2 separate regions of the Homo sapiens genome follow, and region 1 is linked to region 2. The links come from fine-mapping of genetic effects on gene expression. A gene starts in region 2. The other region holds a variant in brackets. All regions are shown on one strand. Distances are between the middles of the regions. Region 1 overlaps TSPOAP1 (TSPO associated protein 1). Region 2 holds the start of TSPOAP1-AS1 (TSPOAP1, SUPT4H1 and RNF43 antisense RNA 1).

Region 1 (9,542 bases), 12 kb after region 2:
CTATCTCCTGGTCCCTCCTCAGGCCACAGACCCCAAGCCCACGTGCCATCTTCTCTTTAGACCTTGACCTCCCGCCGGGCTCCCCTGGGCGCTGCACCCCAAAGTCTTCCGAGCCTGCCCCTGCCACTCTCACTGGGGTCCCTCGAAGGACAGCCAAGAAGGCAGAGTCTCTCTCCAACTCCTCCCACTCCGAGTCCATCCACAACAGCCCCAAGTCATGCCCTACACCTGAGGTAATTGCTGGGGTGGGGCCTGAAGTTCTGGCTTTGGCTTGGGGAAGGGTGCAGGGCAGGTGGCCCTGACCTCTTCTGGGGTCCCCAGGAGTTGGGTGGCAACTTCTGGGGTCCCAAGTTGGGAGGTGGGAGGCCTGTGGATTCCTCCTGTGGGCGAGGCGCTCAGGTGGAGCCCTTCCTGCCCTCCACTGCCTGCCTGCAAGCCCCACCTGGGGCCACCCCAGCCCACCCCTGGGAGGCCCAGGGAGGCTCTGGAGTGCTGGGCTGGATGGAGGAGACACTTGGGCACCAGGATCTGCATAATGAGACTGTTCCTAAGAGCATCTGTAGTGAAAGCAGGTGGTTGTATGAGAAAGCACATGTTCCAGGATTCAAATCCCAGCTTTGCCTTAGGCAAGTCACTGAGCCTTTCTGGGCTTCTGTTTCCTTATCTGAATCTTGGAGCTAATAAAACCTGCCTTCTAAGGTTGTTGTGAGAGTTAAATGAATACGGAACCTGCCTGTCTCAGTGTGGGGCACACAGGATGTGTGCTCAACACGGGGCAGCTGTTATTATTACTAAGCTCCTGGGCATCACTCATAGCTCTGGTCGTCAACTCATCCTTCTTTCTACCCACAAACCCCAGAAGGTGGAGGAGGCAGGTCAGAAGCAGCTCTGAGAGCCAAACATTCAGAAAGTGGTAGAACGAAGCCCTGGGCCTCTATTGCCCCCTCGTGGGATAGAAGGATGGTGCCAGCTTTGGATGTGGTTGTGGAGAGGTTGCCCACTTGGTCCCCTTCTCCCAGGCATTGGCAGAGAAGAGAAGACAGCCTGTTCCCCAGGCTACCCCAGCAACCTCAACAAGGGTCAGAGAATTGGGGTGCCCTGAGGTTGCGGTGCCCTGGGCTGTGGGCCGGGCAAGTAGACGGGAAGTTCTGAGTTCCAGAGCTGAACAGCAGACACACTGTCACTCGGCTAGAAGCAGGGACCCCTCAAGCTCCTTCTGCCTCCTTTCTGCCTCCTTGCTTCCAGCGATTTACAGTTGGGGTGCTTTGCTGAGGGGTTTCTTTTTTCTTTGTTTTTGTTTGTTTGTTTGTTTGTTTTTAGACAGGGCCTCGCTCTATCCCCCAGGCTGCAGTGCAGTGGCGCAATCTCAGCTCACTGCAACCTCTGCCTCCTGGGCTCAAGCAATCCTCCTACCTCCGCCTCCCAAGTAGCTGGGACCACAGGCATGCACCACCACACCCAGCTAATTTTTGTATTTTTAGTAGAGATGGGGTTTTGTTATGCTTCTCACGCTGGTCTCAAACTCCTGGCTCAAGCAATCTGCCCTCCTCAGCCTCTCAAAGTGCTGGAATTATAGGCGCGAGCCACTGCACCTGGCAACTTTGCTGAGTTTTTACCTTAAGGAACCAAACCAAACTTCTGTTGACACCCACTCCCCACACCAGCATGGCCTGGGCCCCTCTGAGATGAGGGAAGTGGCTTTATTTCCTGGCGGGTGCAGTAGAGGCTCAGGGAGGGGTCTGGGTTATCCCCACTGCCCCTGCCCAGGGCAGCTGGGCTCTGCCAGGACCTGCTCTCTCAGGCACTAATTTAGAGAGCATCAGGGGGTCCTTGCCACTGCTCCTGTGCAGCATGTATGTGCTCATTTTCCCTCCTTAAAGCAATAGGTCCTCTGGCTCAGCCTGGAAACCTGCCTGCTTGGCGCTTGGCCCCAGGCCCTGAAGAGAAACCAGCCCTTTCTGTTTGCCCCCAGGTGGACACAGCCAGTGAGGTAGAGGAGCTGGAGGCAGACAGTGTCTCCCTGCTCCCAGCTGCGCCAGAGGGCAGCCGGGGAGGAGCCAGGATCCAGGTCTTCCTAGCACGTTATAGGTGGGTCCCTCACCCTCACTGCCCCCTAGCCCAGCCCCAGCATTTGGGGTATAGGAGGGGGCCGGGTGGAGCTGGAGACCTCTGGAAGTGGTGGGGGCAGTACAGGACACAATGGACCTATTCTAATAACCTAGTTGGGCCAAGGTGGGTGCAGTGAGGGCTCAGCTTTGCTGGTGGTGGACAACCACAACCAAGTCTCCGTAAAGGCTCAGTGCAGTGGGAGAGAGAAGACAGGACATGGAAGTGGAGTGTAGGTCACTCTCCTCCTCCTCCTCTGTGCCTCCCCTAACAGCTACAACCCCTTTGAGGGTCCCAATGAGAATCCAGAAGCAGAGCTTCCGCTGACAGCTGGCGAGTACATCTACATCTATGGCAACATGGATGAGGATGGCTTTTTTGAAGGTAGGAATGTAGTGGGGGGTCATTCTGTCCATTCCCCTGCCTTTGAGCCCATGTTCCCAAAGACGGATATCCATCCATCCATCCATCCATTCATCCATCCATCCATCCATCCATCCATCCATCCATCCATCCCCTCTGCCCAGCGTGCTCAGCCCACCTTAACTTTTTGGTCTCAGCTAAAAGGCATACAGAGACCTAGTAGCCACTGGGGAAAGAGAAAGAAGGGAGTCTGGCTCCAAGCAGGACAGGACAGCATAGTCCAGATGGTGGAGAGAGTGTCACAGGAGATTTTGGCTAGATTCATTTTTGTGTGGATAGTCAGGGCGTGGCAGTGTTTCACAGTAGTGACACCTGAGGTCAGGTATGCAGCACAGATTTGATGCTGGACTCCAGTCAGGTATGCGAAGGAGGAATCAGGGTAAAGATCCCAGGGGAAGGTGTTCTCAAGCGGTTAGCAGCTGTCAGGGCCCAGGCAGGGTGTCTGCTTCAGGGAGGTTCTGCAGCTCCTGTGGGGAGTCAGAGGGCTGATCAGGCAACTCAAGGCAGATGCCTCATTGAGACTGGGCACTATGGGCCTGCGGAAGACATGGCCTTGGGAGACTCTCTCAGGGTGGCTCTGGCCTGGGTACCACCAGGCTGAGTCCATCAGCAGCAGAGAGGATGGCACTGTGTAGAGAATTGGATGGGGCATGGACAGGGCAGGGCGAGAGCCGCAGCTGTGTGTAGAGATTTAGGAACAGGCTTAGCTCTGAATCTGTAACCCTGGAAGCTTGGGAGCCTGCTCAGTTTCTTTTCCCTGGGTCCTCTGCCTGTTACTTGAGGAGCTGCTGAGACCCATGGTACCTGGCTTTGTGGCCTAAACAGTTAAACTCCCTACAGGGGTAGATTATGAAGATCAGAATTAAAAAGCTTTCAGGAAAATAATACTTTATAAATGAAGAAAAAAAAACCCCACCCAAATCAAAAACCAAAACCCAAACACTTTATTTTTGGAGGGGGCAGCAAAGGCATAAGTATTAACTAACCACAAATGACTAGAATTTGAACTCTGCGATCTGGGATAAATTGGGATAGATGTAAATGCCACCGGGGGCAAGATGCCGTATTCCCTGTCCAACCTTAGCTAAAGGACTGCTTCGTCTATGTCTGGGCCACCTAGGCTGTTCTCAGCTGCATGGGCTTCTGGAGCATGTGCCTGACTCCGGCCCAGGCTCCAGCTTCAGCCCTGCAGGCTGGAGATCCTCTTAGTGTGAAGACTCCTGCCTTTGTCTCCCACTCCACAGTGCTGGTGCTTATGATCGTTTCCTAGGGCTGCAGGAGCAATTACCATAGAGTGGCTTGAAACAATAGACATTTATTCTCTCACTGGCCTCTTCTGGAGGCCAGAAGTCTGAAATCAAAGTATTGGCAGAACTGCATCCCCTTGGGGGCTCTAGGGGAGGTTCCGTTCCTTGTCTCTTTTAGCTTACGGTGGCTCCAGTTGTTCCTTGGCTTATGGCCACCTCACTCCAGTCTCTATCTGTGGTCACCATTGCCTCCTCCTCTTAGTGTTTCTCCTCTGCATGTCTCTTATAAAAACACTTGTCATTAGATTTAGGACCCACCCGGATAATCTAGGATGATCTCATCTCAAGATCCTTAACTTAATTACATCTGCAAAGACGCTTTTTCCAAATAAGGTCATGTTCACAAGTTCTGGGGATTAGAACATGGACATGTTTTTGGGCGGCCACCATTCAACCCTCTACAGTGCTTATTATATCAGTGAATTTATTGACAGTCCCTCTTGTTTCTTCAAGTTCCTTACTTTTTTTTTGCCTAGCATAGGCAGAGAGAGAGAGGGTGGAGGTGAGGGGCACAGATGACTGTTGGGGGAAACTCCAGGCCCCCCTGCAGCTCAGACCTGCCTACACTCACCCCTCTCCCCTAAGCCCTGGCTCGTGCTCCCCCTTCCTCTCAATAAAGCACACCAGCTACCAGCTGTCTGTTTCCTGAGACCTTTTTTTCTTCTTTAAATTGACCGTGACATTACATGCTGGGTGCCCAGCTTCCTTGACATCCCTCAATCAAACAACAGCAAATGTTTTAAAATACTCTCTTGTCAAGTCTTCAGGAGAACTGATGCAGGTAACAAAACATAACCATTGGTGGTTGCCTGGATTGACTGCTGTCAATCATGCTGCTAGACACAGGCCTGCTGGGGCTCCTGATCCTTCTAGAACTTACAAGTGACTATTTCACTAGCACTTACTTCATTTGTCTCTAAAGATTCCTCCTTTACCCTGCTGAGTTGGTTGTCTCTCTCTCCCTCTGTGGATGTCTGCTGTTCACAAAGAGAAGTTGAGGGGCACCCTGGCCCCTATTCCTCAGGCCCAGGTAAAACCCAACCAGCAGAATTTTTTTTTTTTTTTTTTT[G/TG]ATACAGCATCTTGCTCTGTCGCCCAGGCTGGAGTGCAGTGGCGCGATTATGACTTCTAGCTTCTGCCTCCCGGGCTCAAGCAATCCTTCCACCTCAGGCTCCTGAGTAGCTGCAACTGCAGGCGTGCAACCACTCCCAGCTAATTTTTGCATTTTTTGTAGAGATTGGGTTTTGCCATGTTGCCCAGATTGGTCACAAACTCCTGGGCTCAAGCGATCTGCCTGCCTCATCCTCCTGAAGTGCTGGGATTACAGGCATAAGCCACCATGCCTGGCCAGTTTTCTTATCCTGACCTGCTTATTTTTTAAAACTTTAATATGAAATTATGAAATTATTATTGCAATTTTTAACACAAAAGTTTTCAAATGTACAGAATATATTTGAATATTTATATAGCCAGCACCTAGATTCAACAATTGTTAAAACTTTGGCATATTTGCTTTATATGTAGGTTAAACATGATTTTAAAAGCATTATGATATTTTACCTTGAAATACTCAACATGCTTACTTAGAACATGATATTCTCCTCCATCCTTGCAGCTTGAGTGTCACCTGGTGGCTTATTAGAATCACAGAATCTCAGCCCCATCCAGACCCAACCGAGTTAGAATCTGCATTTTAACAAATCTGTAGGTGATTCATATGCAAGTTAAAATTGAAGAAGCACTGTCCTATAGAACCAAAATACTATTATCAGACCTATCTCTAATCCAGATCTTTACTGCTCTTGTCTTTTAAAAGAATTGACAGTTAAATGTTGATTTGAATCAAATGCTGAAGATCACCCACTAGCAGTTGCTAAAATGCATTTATTATACCGTTTTTTCTTTATCTCCTCTCTGTCTTCCCCTGCCCTGCCCCTTCCTGTCCTCCTCCTGCCAGGAGAGCTCATGGATGGCCGAAGGGGCCTGGTCCCTTCCAATTTTGTAGAGCGTGTGTCGGATGATGACCTCCTGACCTCCCTCCCTCCAGAGCTGGCCGATTTGTCCCACAGCTCAGGCCCTGAACTCAGTTTCCTGAGTGTAGGTGGGGGTGGCAGCAGTAGCGGGGGCCAAAGCAGTGTGGGAAGGAGCCAGCCCAGACCTGAGGAGGAGGATGCAGGGGACGAGCTCAGTCTGAGCCCATCACCGGAGGGCCTGGGCGAGCCTCCTGCCGTGCCTTACCCCCGCCGTCTGGTGGTCCTCAAGCAGCTGGCCCACAGCGTGGTGCTGGCCTGGGAGCCGCCTCCTGAGCAAGTGGAGCTACACGGCTTCCATATCTGTGTGAATGGGGAGCTGCGACAGGCCCTGGGGCCTGGGGCGCCACCCAAGGCCGTGCTGGAGAACCTGGACCTGTGGGCCGGGCCCCTTCACATTTCTGTCCAGGCCCTGACTAGCCGGGGCAGCTCTGACCCACTGCGCTGTTGCTTGGCGGTGGGTGCCCGGGCCGGAGTGGTGCCCAGCCAGCTGCGGGTCCATCGGTTGACAGCCACATCTGCTGAGATCACCTGGGTGCCCGGCAATAGCAACTTGGCCCATGCCATCTACCTCAATGGGGAAGAGTGCCCACCTGCCAGCCCCAGTACCTACTGGGCCACCTTCTGCCACTTACGGCCTGGCACACCCTATCAGGCCCAAGTGGAGGCTCAGCTCCCACCCCAAGGGCCCTGGGAACCAGGCTGGGAGAGGCTGGAGCAGCGGGCTGCCACCCTGCAGTTCACCACACTCCCAGCAGGTATGTGGGCTTGGGCCCTGTTGTCCAGAACACCCAGGAGGCCAGGCCATGGGTGACGGAAGAAGGGGACCCTGATCTTATTTGCGTTATCAGGGAAATAGCAAATTGGGCAGGTATCTCTGATGGGGAGCGTCCTGCATCACTGGGTCTTGTGCCCCCCTGCCCCCAGGCCCACCTGATGCCCCTCTGGATGTGCAGATCGAGCCTGGGCCCTCCCCTGGGATCTTGATCATCAGTTGGCTCCCAGTCACCATCGATGCTGCTGGCACATCCAACGGTGTCCGGGTCACAGGCTATGCCATCTACGCTGATGGGCAGAAGGTATAGCCCTGCCCACTGTACCCTGGGAGTGGGGGTGGGTCCCTTCTTGCTATGCTCAGAGGTCTAGGCTCTCTGGCTTGGCACGGAGATGCCCAGCCCCTGGCATTTGGGTACCATGAGGCAGATGGGTTAAGAGCATGGGCTTTGGCAGCACATGACAGATTTTAGAACTGTTCCATCACTGAAGCCATATGGCCAGGAGGATGAAATGAGATAGGCCATGCAGAGGGCTTAGCACAGTACCTGGCGTAATGCTAGCTGCCACTGCTGTCAGTTAGCTGCCACTGCTGTCAGTGCATCCTCACGCTTGGCTGTCTCAGCCTCTGCTTCCCATCCTGTGCCCCCTCCACCCTGCAGATCATGGAGGTGGCCTCACCCACGGCAGGCAGTGTACTGGTGGAGTTGTCCCAGCTGCAGCTGCTGCAGGTGTGTCGTGAGGTGGTCGTGCGCACCATGTCGCCCCACGGGGAGTCGGCGGACTCCATCCCGGCTCCTATCACTCCCGCCCTGGCTCCGGCCAGCCTGCCAGCCCGAGTCTCCTGCCCCTCACCGCACCCAAGCCCAGAGGCCAGAGCGCCCCTTGCTTCAGCCTCCCCAGGGCCTGGAGACCCCAGCTCTCCTCTCCAGCACCCTGCTCCCCTTGGAACTCAAGAGCCTCCAGGAGCACCCCCTGCAAGCCCTTCCAGAGAGATGGCAAAAGGGTCCCACGAGGACCCTCCAGCACCTTGCTCCCAGGTACCCTGTCTGGGGAGAGGGGAGCAGGTGCAGGCTGGCAGAGGGACCTGGGCTTGGGTCCTTCCTCAGTGCTCTCTGTTCCAGGAGGAGGCTGGGGCAGCAGTGCTGGGCACCTCAGAGGAGAGGACAGCCAGCACATCTACCCTGGGTGAGAAGGACCCTGGCCCCGCAGCTCCCTCACTGGCCAAGCAGGAGGCCGAGTGGACTGCAGGAGAGGCCTGTCCGGCCTCCAGCTCCACCCAGGGAGCACGGGCCCAGCAGGCGCCAAATACCGAGATGTGCCAAGGAGGAGACCCAGGGTCTGGGCTGAGGCCCAGGGCTGAGGTAGGGGTTTGGGGACACACTGTGTCACTTCAGAGAATTGAGGCCTGTCTCCCTACCTTTTGCCAGCGCAAATCCAGTTGCCCTCTCTGCCTGTCCTCTGCTCTGGTCCTGCTCTCACACCTTTGGCTGTGCTATGTGTCTGTTTTTCTTCTAGGATTTCTCTGTCCCATGTGGCTCCCATCTCCCTTCTCCCACCCTGCCCCTGAGCCATGGTGTGCCTCCCCCATTTAGGACATGGCTCTTTCTCCCTCTGCCAAAGGACCCTTGTTACTGTGGCTGGGGCTGACCCTGCCTGGAACCCCCTGTGCCCCCTCACTGTCCTTATCTCTCCTGCCTTGCCTCACTTCTTGCAGAAGGAGGACACAGCAGAGCTTGGGGTTCATCTGGTGAACTCCCTCGTGGACCACGGCCGCAACTCAGACCTGTCAGACATCCAGGAGGAAGAGGAAGAGGAGGAGGAGGAGGAGGAAGAGGAGCTGGGTTCCAGGACTTGCTCCTTCCAGAAGCAGGTTGCTGGCAACAGCATCAGGGAGAATGGGGCCAAGGTAACGGGGTAGGGATGGGCTGTTGGGCCCCAGGCCTCAAACTCCGGGGCCTCCCCACTGTGTGTCAGCAGGTGCTCTGACCACCACTGAGTGCCAGAAACATTCTAGGTCTGTGGCCTGGGCCCTGTCCTAAGCAGAAGATAGGAAGTGCCCCAGGATTGGCCCCTGCCCTCCTGGAAAGAAAGGGGAAGGGGAGGAGTTCATTTCTGTACCTTCTCTCCCTCCAGCCCACCAGATACAGCGCCCTGGCCAGGGGAGGCCGGTGCCACCTAAGATCCTTGTGCTGGTAGCTTCTGGGGAGGGGATGGGGAGGCCTGCTCCTCAATGCTCCTGTCCCACAGGGGCTGGTGATGGTTCCTAGAGTGTGTTCCCTAATTCTTCCTTTGGCTCTCACTGGATATGTGTGTGAATTTGGGCCAGCCACCGTCCCTCTGGTTCTCTCCTCTCGGAGGAAGCCGTGGGAGGGCTGTGGGGTTGTCCGTAACCCCTGCCTTCGTTTGAGGGCAAAGATCGCAGCTCGCTCTCCTCTTCCCCACGCATCTCTCTTCCCTGCTGTGTTCTACTCCCACCTCCCCACCTCCACCAGTCCCAGCCCGACCCCTTTTGTGAGACTGACAGCGATGAGGAGATCTTGGAGCAGATCCTGGAGCTGCCCCTCCAGCAGTTCTGTAGCAAGAAGCTCTTTAGCATCCCGGAGGAGGAGGAAGAGGAAGAGGAGGACGAGGAGGAGGAGAAGTCAGGGGCAGGCTGTTCTTCCCGAGACCCTGGCCCGCCTGAACCTGCATTGCTGGGGCTGGGCTGTGACAGTGGTCAGCCCCGAAGACCTGGCCAGTGTCCCTTGTCTCCTGAGTCCTCCAGGGCTGGAGACTGCCTGGAAGACATGCCTGGATTAGTTGGTGGAAGCAGCCGGAGGAGAGGAGGGGGCTCCCCTGAGAAGCCCCCAAGCCGCAGGCGGCCTCCAGATCCCCGAGAACACTGCAGCCGACTTCTCAGCAA
Region 2 (9,542 bases):
ACACACACACAGACACATGTGACATGACTGGCATGACACACACAGGGATTACACACACCCAGGGCACATACATATTCAGTAGTACACACATGCAATGATAGAAACATAGGGCGTGTCTTACACATAGAAGAGCACACACATACAGTGACATTTGCATAATAAACACGGTGGCTCCATACACATACATAGATAGAGACATGTTCATATATCATGATAAATATAGAATACATAGATACATGGTGATATATATATATAAATCAAACCATGTCATTATGCATATTTACATGACGATATGAGCATGTCATATATTGTGTAATCAATTACTACATTGTGCCATATAGTAGCATCCATATCTATATATATCATGATGTGTTGTAATTTATAAACTCATGCAATGATAGCCTCCCATGCACATAACAGCACACACATAGACACAGTGGCAAACAAACATAGATGCAATGACACAGAAACATACATACAGATACACCCAATGTGTTTTTGTTACGTTTTATTATGTGACTCATAGACACATAATAGCACACACATATATACACACAATGGCCCCTTCACATATACAGAAATAGATAATGTCTATTCTATAGATGCATACTATACACACGCATGCGCATAATGGCATGCATATATACTCTGACCTAAACAGCAACACATCATGCAGTGGCGTGCGTGTTGACCTACACACTGCTTTAGGGAAGTGAAGATGTCCACTCCTCCCCATGCACCCCCTACCTCCAGTTCCATTGGCTCTTGCCTGGGTGGAGCCCACAGTCAGGGGCTCTAGGGTTCAGTATCACCGCTGCTATTCTGTGGGGGTGCCACACGAGGGCCCCCGACCTTGGCTGAAACTGGCTTGCCTAATGAGTCCCGGGTTCAGAGTGGAGAGGGGCTGCCTCTCGGGGCTTCTCCCAACACCCCTGGCTCTGGGGACTCTGTCTAGACCCCTGCCACTGCATATAGACTGACTCCTGGCTGAGGGGATTCTCACGTCCTTGTCCCCCAAATTATTTAGCAACAAGATCTAAGGCTAGACAGAAGATGAACTTCCAGGCAATTCGGGACAAAGCCAACCCAACAGGCCATGTGGGCTTCCCTGGTGGCCTGGGACAGCCAGGTTGCCCCCCAAGTGCAATCTGCCAGGAGGAAGCAGAAGGAATTCTCCGTCTATTTCTACCTGTCTCTTTGCTTGTCTTCCCGGTTTCTTTCTCTTGGTTTCTGTCTCTCTCTTTGTTTCATCTCAAGTCCCATCTTTTCTAGTTCTGCCCTTCTCTGTGGCTGGATCTCTGTCATACCCTCCCCCGTTCTGTCTCTATCAGTCTCACCCGATGTAGGGAGGACCATCTGCACCCCACTCGCCTCTGTACTCCGGAAGGTGTGAGAATGTGTGAAGATGAGGGTGGGAGGCCACATGTGGGAGCCCTGGGCTGACATGCCGTGAGAAACCTGCTCTTCCTTCTGTCCCCGACCCTGTCAGCCGGTTCAGCCCACCAGTCCAGCGCCATCACCATGGAAACCAGCAGCCGACTTCCTATTGGTGGGTGGGAGGGGAGGAGGAGGAGGAGGAGGGGAGGGCTGGCTCTTCCCGGCTCACCCCCCCACCCAATTCTGAGGCTCAGCCCTCCTCGGAGCCCACCATCTCGAGGCTCCTGGACTGTAAGGGACCCCTGCAGTCCCCAGAGCAGAGGCCAGCAGGGGCTGAGACTATGAGGCAAGCAGCCCATCGACCCAGGCCTCCTTAGGACCAGCCCAGCCACCCAGCAAGCGAAAGAGCAGCAGCAGAGAGCAGAGCCGGAGATAAAGGACCACAGCGGACCACTGGGGATCACCCCCAGCAGCTCCTGAAGCCTCTGGCCGGGCTGAGGGGTTGCGACAGACGGCCAGACCCACAGACACTGACAGACACACAACGACACCGATGCACACAGCTGCACGACACTGACACACTCAGATACAACCAGGGACAGCATCACATACTGCCACAGCCCTGCAATACAGACACCCACACACACACACACAAACAACTGGCAACTCTGAAATGGGCAGACAGTGACACACAGCACCACCCCCCTCAACACACAGAAGTGGGGGCACCCATCTTCCCAACACATGAGACAGCATTGACCTGCACGGACAGACCTGGAGACACACACACGCACCCTCACCCAGGCGCAGCTGTCGGTGGCCTCTGCACATCCTCCCTACCCCCACAGGGACACCCTCGCTCCTCCACATACTCGCGCACACACACAGCTACCAGCAAACATAGCTCACATACCCCTGGCTCCAGCTCCAGCAGCCCTGGCGCCTTCTGCAGCCTCCTTTGTGGGTGGGGAAGAGCTCAGCCAACCTTGGATGGAGCGTCGGTGAAGCAAGAGCTCAGAGGGGAGAGGGGCTGGCCTGGCATGACCCTCGCCAGTCCCCCCACCTGGCTGGGTGATGTCCCCCGGCCCGGGTTCTGGGGCCCCTTGGCAGTACCATGGAGCAACTGACAACCCTCCCACGGCCTGGGGACCCTGGAGCCATGGAGCCATGGGCACTGCCCACCTGGCATAGCTGGACTCCAGGTCGAGGGGGTGAACCTAGCAGTGCAGCCCCAAGCATCGCTGATACTCCTCCGGCAGCTCTGCAGCTTCAAGAACTGAGGTCTGAGGAGAGTTCCAAGCCCAAAGGAGACGGGAGCTCCAGGCCCGTGGGGGGAACTGACCCTGAAGGAGCAGAGGCTTGTCTGCCCAGCCTGGGCCAGCAAGCATCCAGCTCTGGACCCGCCTGCCAGAGGCCAGAGGATGAGGAAGTGGAGGCTTTCCTGAAGGTAAGGGATCTGTGGAGGGCTGGGGTCTGCAAGGTGGGGGTCTCTCACCATGTCCTCCAGCCTGGCCAGGAGGTGAGGCGAGGTATGCATCCCCAATGCCCACCTGTCCTCTCTTGGCCTGTCTGTGGGTCCATCTCTGTGGCTATCTGTCCTCTCTTCATCGAGCAGAAATCTGAGGGGCTCCATTTCTTTCGTCATTTGTCTGTCCTTCTGACCCTCTTTGCCTGTCTGTCTAGATCTGGCCCTGCTGCTGCCCCGTCCCTCTCTGTGCCTCCTCCTGACAGTGTGTCTGTCTGTGTCTCTTCTTCCATGAGTCTGTCTGTCCTTAGGGGCTGGGGGATACAGGGGGAGTGTGGAGGTGCACAGAGAATCAGTGCAGAGGAAGTAGATTGAGGGGAGGGGGCTTGGTGCTGGGCTGAGGCAGGGTTGGGGTGGGTGTGAGCAGGCTCCTGTAGAAGAGGGAAGGAACAGGACTTTGGGGGAGGGCAGGGGAGTCTGGAGGGATGGGAGTGGGAGCTCGAGCTCGCATGTCCCTGGAGGAGAAGATGGGTAGGAATGGGAAGGATCAGGGAGGAGCAGGAGGGTGCCAGGTTTGGGGGTGTCTATGTGGACAGGGAGGACTGGACAGTTCCTTCTCCTAGGCCTCCTCTGCTCCTCTCTGAAGGCCTGGGACATAGGGGAAACCGTTTCATCTCCATGTCTCCTTGGACCATGGATGGTGGATGCTTCCACAGGGAAGGCTCTGGCTGGGTGACGTGGGTTTCTGAGGTGCTGTCCTCGGTCCTTTCCCATGCCAGGCCAAGCTGAATATGAGCTTTGGGGACAGGCCCAATCTGGAGCTGCTGAGGGCCCTGGGGGAGCTGCGGCAGCGCTGTGCCATCCTTAAGGAGGAAAACCAGATGCTGGTGAGGCTTGGAGACTGGGGTGCTGCGTTCTGGCTGGAGCCAGGCCCTCTGCCTCAGTGCCCTCCTCACCCCATGAACATCTTTCCAAGTGGGGGCTCAATGGAGGTGACAAAATCCTGAGACCCAGAGAGGGTGAACCCCTGCCTAGAGTTGCCAAGGACCCCACTGTGAGCCTAGGGCTCTAGCCCAAGACTTGGGCTGTTAGGACTGGGTCTGTGGGGTGCTCCCTACATGCCCCAATTCTGCCTGACCCCTTGTCAGAGGAAGAGCAGCTTCCCTGAGACAGAAGAGAAGGTGCGGAGGCTGAAGAGGAAGAACGCCGAGCTGGCGGTCATTGCCAAGCGCCTGGAGGAGAGGGCCCGAAAGCTGCAGGAAACGAACCTGAGGGTGGTGAGGAAAGGAGGCTGCTGGGCGGAGGCTGGGTGACCAAGGAAGAGGGGAGCCAGGGCTGGGCCTGAGGGCTGTCTGAAGCTTGGGAGTCACGGTCTCAGCTCAGCACCTAGGAAAGCAAGAATCTAGGGGCTAAGGTGCAGGAAGGGCAGAGGCTGGCCAGGCAAGGAGGCCAAAGGTTTCTGGAGCTGCAGGGGGCAGAGAAGAGCTGGATGGGGAGGTTCCTGAGCAGGCAGGGAGCAGGATTCTGGATTACCACGTGCTGGTGCTGGCGGCAGCCTTCTGCTGAGCTCATCTCAGGGTATAGAGCTGGAGTGGGGGCAGGGATGAGACCCATCACAGTGGCAGCCCCAAATTAGCAGCATCCTTTGATCCTAAACTCAGATGTAGAGTTAATCCTTTCCAACTGCTGGGATGGGGTAGAGTGAGGCTGCTGGTTTTCTGAGACCCCAGTCAAGGTGGAAGCAGGTGGCTACCCCCCTAGGTTTTCATGCTAACTCCTCCTTTGGGAGGAGATGAGGAGTGGGAGAAGTGCCCCAGCCCTCAGGTGACCATTGGCCTTACCCCTCCTCTGGCTAGGTGAGTGCCCCCTTGCCCCGGCCGGGGACCAGCTTGGAGTTGTGTCGGAAGGCCCTAGCCCGCCAGCGAGCCCGGGACCTCAGTGAGACAGCCAGTGCACTGCTGGCCAAGGACAAGCAGATTGCTGCCTTGCAGCGGGAGTGCAGGGAGCTGCAGGCCAGGCTCACTCTGGTGGGCAAGGTGCGAGGAGGCCCTGGTCACCTCTTCCAGCTCAGCCCTGCACAGGGCCATCTGCCTGTTGTGGGATGCAGACAAGATGTTAATGAGACGCAAATGAAAGGGAGGGTGGAGGTTGCTGGGAGTAGGTTCCCCTGGCAACGGCCCAGGTGGGAGAGGGGAGAAGGGGGTGGAGCCATGAGTCCCAGACCTGGGCATTTCTGTGCTCCAGGCTTGAGGCTGTTTGCCGGTGGGTCTGGCTGTATGCATCCACACATCCCCTGTGTGAAGGGATGTTCACAAGGTATTTAGCACAGTGCTGGGCACATTGAGAGCACCCAAGAAATAAGTTACTGAGAATGACCGCATAGGGGCTCGCGGGAGCATGTGGCCACATACGCATGCACATGTAACCAGGCATGTACCCATGGGAGGGTGTGCACAGTCTCGCGCATCGGAGCCCCTCCAGCAAGGCGAAGGGCTCTGCAGGGGATGGCATGGGGCGGGCAAGGATTAGGCCTGAGTCCCCTCCCTGTCCCTGTCCCCCAACCTCAGGAGGGTCCCCAGTGGCTCCACGTGCGGGACTTCGATCGGCTGCTGCGCGAGTCCCAGCGGGAGGTGCTGCGGCTGCAGAGGCAGATCGCGCTGCGCAACCAGCGGGAGACGCTCCCGCTCCCGCCGTCCTGGCCCCCGGGCCCTGCTCTCCAGGCCAGAGCAGGGGCGCCTGCTCCCGGGGCCCCGGGAGAGGTGAGCGCCGGCGCAAGGGCAGGTGTGTGGGTGCGTGCAGATGGGTGGGGGGAACGACCACCGGGATCTCCCCTGCACCGTGCTCAGAACCCCAAGGACTCAGTGGTGGTGTGCGCACTCCCAGGGGCTGGGGAGCTTTCCCGTCCTGGGCAGGGTCCACCTCCAAGCCTCCCGTGCTCGTACCTGCGCCGTGCCCTCCCCTGGGGGCTCCAGGGTTCCGCCCTCCATAGGCCTGCGCCCAGCGGGGCCTGGCCGGCCGCCCCTGCCGCGCTGCCAGTGGTACGGCCCGGCCGCAAATCCCTGGTTGTCCTGGCAGCCGCCCGGGGCCCAGCCCGCGCCGCCTCCTCCCGCCGCCGCCGTAGAGCGGGGACGCCCCCGTCAGCGCCCGCCTGGCTGGCCAGGCCTGGCCCCAGCTACCCGGGGGCGGCGGTGCGTCCGCCCCGGCTCCAGGTACAGGCAACCCTCACTGAGCGGGGGGCTTAGGCAGCCCCTGTCTCGAGGGCCAGGGACCCGCTTAGGACCCCCAGAACTTAAGGGTCTGGCTTCTCGCCATCATCCTAGGTAGGCAGCAAGTAGGTCCTCCTCCTTCTGGGAAGAGGGCTGGGAGGAGAGACCAGGCAGTGATCTGATAGTGACCAAGACCTCCGGGTGGGGGGAGGCTTCTTGCTCAGATTTTGTCTCCCTGGCTGGCCCTGGAAGGGAGATGCACCCTCCCATCAAGACCTGTCCTCCCCCAAAGTTTGCACGGATAATCGGAAGGTGTGGTAGGGTGGGCTTGGGGGAAGCCAGGAGAAGGGTCTGGCTGGACTTGCGCTGCTCTAGGCCAAGCCCAGATTTGGATGATACAGAACCCCTATCTTGGGGAACACCACATCCCCGGGGGCCCAGGCAGCCTCCTAGTTCTCTGCCAGTCGCTGAAGGACACCCAGGACAGTTATTGAGTGCAGAGCAGGGCTGCTGCTGGAAGCTAAAAAGGGAAAGCTTTGGCCTGGATAAAGGACCCATCTCCCAGGGCACACGTGGGTCCCAGGATCTCAAAGCACTTATGGCTCCAGGACACAGGGGTGCAGCCTTTGTACTTACACATCAGCTGGAGACAATGGGAGGTGGGTGGGCAGACAGTACCCCTCTTTGCTCTTGCTAGGCAGGGATCTCTTGCTGGCTGAATGATGGGGTGGGAACCTGCTCTGGGCAGGCTGGGCTGGGGCAGGCTGCCCTGGGGCCCTGTTCTCAGGTGCCAGCCCCTTGCCCCTGGGCATTTCCAGGCCACGCCCCAGGAGGATGCGGACAACCTACCCGTGATTCTAGGGGAGCCAGAGAAAGAGCAGAGGGTGCAGCAGCTGGTAAGTCCTAGGTCAAGGGCTGGAGGCAGCCTGCTGTGGGCAGATGTACCTTCCCTCATGAGGAGCACTTGGTTCTGACCCCTCAGGAATCGGAGCTCAGCAAGAAGCGGAAGAAATGCGAGAGCCTGGAGCAGGAAGCCCGGAAAAAGCAGAGGCGATGTGAGGAGCTGGTGAGCTCTTGAGGGCAACCCAGAGGCCAGCTCCTCCCTTCACCCCGGCCAGCCAGGTGGTGGGCTCCCTCTCAGCTCTGCTCCCACCCCTGCTGCCCTCAAGAACACATTTTCCCTCCTGCTCCTTTCCTTTCCTGGCTGGTGCAGGTTCCAGCAGGGGAGGAAGGCCTTGCCTGGGAGGAGGGCAGGGTCCTCTGTGTGGGGAGAGGGGGAATGTGGGTGCTGGGCTCCCTCCTGAGAGCTCCTCTGCCCGCTCAGGAACTGCAGCTGAGACAAGCGCAGAATGAGAATGCCCGCCTGGTGGAGGAGAACTCCCGGCTCAGTGGGAGAGCCACAGAGAAGGAGCAGGTACCACTTCCGCCCAGGTGCTGTGGAGACCTGTGCTCCCACCACTGCCCCGGTCCCCAGCCAAGGGGCTTTCTCCTCCACCCCTGAGCAGGGGTAGGGTACTGTTCCCCCTGTGAGGGTGCTGGTGGGTCAAGGCTCACCCACCCAACTCCCTGTCACTGCCCCCTCGCCAGGTGGAGTGGGAGAATGCGGAGCTGAGGGGCCAGCTCCTGGGGGTGACACAGGAGAGGGACTCAGCCCTTCGCAAGAGCCAGGGCCTGCAGAGCAAGCTGGAGAGCCTGGAGCAAGTGCTGAAGGTGAGGAGATGGTGCAGGTGGGAGAGGGTGCTGGGCCCTGGCATGGGGAGCAAGTGGGACAGCAGAATATTCTTAGTGAGGGGCACTAGCTCTGAGGCCTGGGCCTGGAGCTGCTCCAGGCTCAGTTTCCTTTGTAATAGAGGAATCTGGAGCAAATGGTGTTTGAGGCTTCCTCATCTTAGATCTTCTCTAGAAATGGCCAAGTAGGGGCTCTGGCCTTGACTCAGATCTTGTGTTTCAGCACATGCGGGAGGTGGCCCAGCGGCGGCAGCAGCTGGAGGTGGAGCATGAACAGGCTCGGCTCAGCCTACGGGAGAAGCAGGAGGAGGTCCGGAGACTGCAGCAGGTGGGGCGGCAGTGAGGGAAGCTGGCAGGCTGCTGGACACCAGCTTTGCCACTCACTCATTCCACAAGCATTTACTGTGTGCCCGGCACTGTGCTAGGCGTCGGGGAGACTGTGGGGAACAAAGACCAGGTCCCTGAGCAGTCAGCAAATTAGCATCCAGGAGTGAGCTGATTTCAGACACTGATGAGCACAGTGGTGGAGAAGAACAGGGTGATGTGACAAAGTGACTGGGATGGGGTGAGGAGCCACTTTAGAGGTCATCAGGGAAGGCCTCCCTGAGGAGGTGACAATTGACCTTGCCAGCCAGGAGGTGTAGACATGCACATGCTCTGTGGCAGGGAAGAGCTGAAGAAGCCTGAGACCAATGTGGCTAGAATACAGCAAGGGATGGGCAGCGTGGTGGGAGTAGACAAGAACCCGATCCTGTCGGGCCTTAACGGCCATGGGAAGAGTTTGGGTATTTTGCTCTGTGAGTAGATAGAAGCTCCTGAAAGATCCTAAGTGGGGGAGTGACATGATCTGAGTCATAATTTTACAGGATCACATGGCTGGTATTATGGAGGGTGGACTGTGGGAGCAGGCGTGGAGCAGGGCCTGGGCGGTGGCCTGGGAGGGAGATGGTGGCTGTCTGGACAGAGATGCATGCAGTGGAACGGGAGACAAGTGCCTGGGTTTGAGTTATGTTTTAGAGATAGAACTGACAAGGTTCTGGCCGGGCATGGTGGCTCATGCCTGTCATCCCAGCACTTTGGGAGGCCAAGGTGGGTGGATCAGTTGAGGTCAGGAGTTCGAGGCCAGCCTGGCCAATATGGTGAATCCCCGTCTCTACCAAAAATACAAAAATTAACCTGACATGGTGGCGGGCCCCTGTAGTCCCAGCTACTCAGGAGGCTGAGGCAGGAGAATTGTTTGAACCCGGGAGGCAGAGCTTGCAGTGAGCTGAGATCGTACCATTGCACTCCAGCCTGGGCGACAGAGCGAGACTCCATCTCAAAAAAAAAAAAAAAGAATTGACAAGGATCCCCGTGGGATTCCAGTTGAATCCCTTCTCTGACAGCCATTTGCTGTATAAACCTTGGTGGAGGGTGGGGCTCTTCATACTCCGTGAGGTGAAGGATGAAGGGGCAGCAGATCTGAGAGGTAGGTCATCCCGAGTGCTGAGTTCCATTTGGGCCATGTCTGAGCTGCGCGTTAAACATTCAAGGGGAGCTGTCCACAGGCACTTGGATACATGAGCCTGGGGTTATGGGTAAGTTGGTCTTGGAGATATTTGGAGCCACCAGTGTGTTTAGTTGTATGAGTAGATGGGAGCCCTAGGAAGAGAGTAGACAATATAAACTGGGCCCAGCACTGGGTCCAGGGTAACCCTAACATTCAAAATGGGGGACAGGGAGCAGGCAAAAGAGGCTGAGAAGGAGCATCCAGAGAGGTAGGGGGG

Evidence for each region. PIP is the estimated chance that this variant, and not a neighbour inherited with it, causes the effect.
Region 1: its variant is fine-mapped to the expression of TSPOAP1-AS1 in whole blood (INTERVAL, PIP above 0.99).

The regions. Positions count from the first base shown.
Region 1 is chr17:58,308,971-58,318,512 of GRCh38, reverse strand. TSPOAP1 (TSPO associated protein 1) reads left to right here. Exons shown (of 32, transcript NM_004758.4): 14 at 61-233; 15 at 1,973-2,088; 16 at 2,381-2,490; 17 at 5,791-6,621; 18 at 6,791-6,942; 19 at 7,300-7,677; 20 at 7,762-8,001; 21 at 8,355-8,546; 22 at 9,133-9,542. Among named protein-coding and RNA genes, the nearest start is that of TSPOAP1-AS1, 12 kb to the left of the region's middle. RefSeq lists enhancers at 5,759-6,377, 8,279-8,978. The variant G/TG (reference allele first, on the strand shown) is at 4,906.
Region 2 is chr17:58,320,870-58,330,411 of GRCh38, reverse strand. It overlaps TSPOAP1-AS1 (TSPOAP1, SUPT4H1 and RNF43 antisense RNA 1), which reads right to left and starts at 4,962. Exons shown (of 5, transcript NR_038410.1): 1 at 4,684-4,962; 2 at 2,291-2,362. TSPOAP1 (TSPO associated protein 1) reads left to right here and starts at 1,617. Exons shown (of 32, transcript NM_004758.4): 1 at 1,617-2,824; 2 at 3,622-3,729; 3 at 3,991-4,119; 4 at 4,699-4,878; 5 at 5,410-5,601; 6 at 6,867-6,944; 7 at 7,031-7,114; 8 at 7,373-7,462; 9 at 7,636-7,758; 10 at 8,000-8,104. The coding sequence starts at 2,492. RefSeq lists enhancers at 795-874, 975-1,144, 1,675-1,744, 2,615-2,774, 4,809-5,357 and silencers at 2,455-2,564, 3,175-3,234, 5,495-5,584, 5,625-5,694, 5,815-6,064.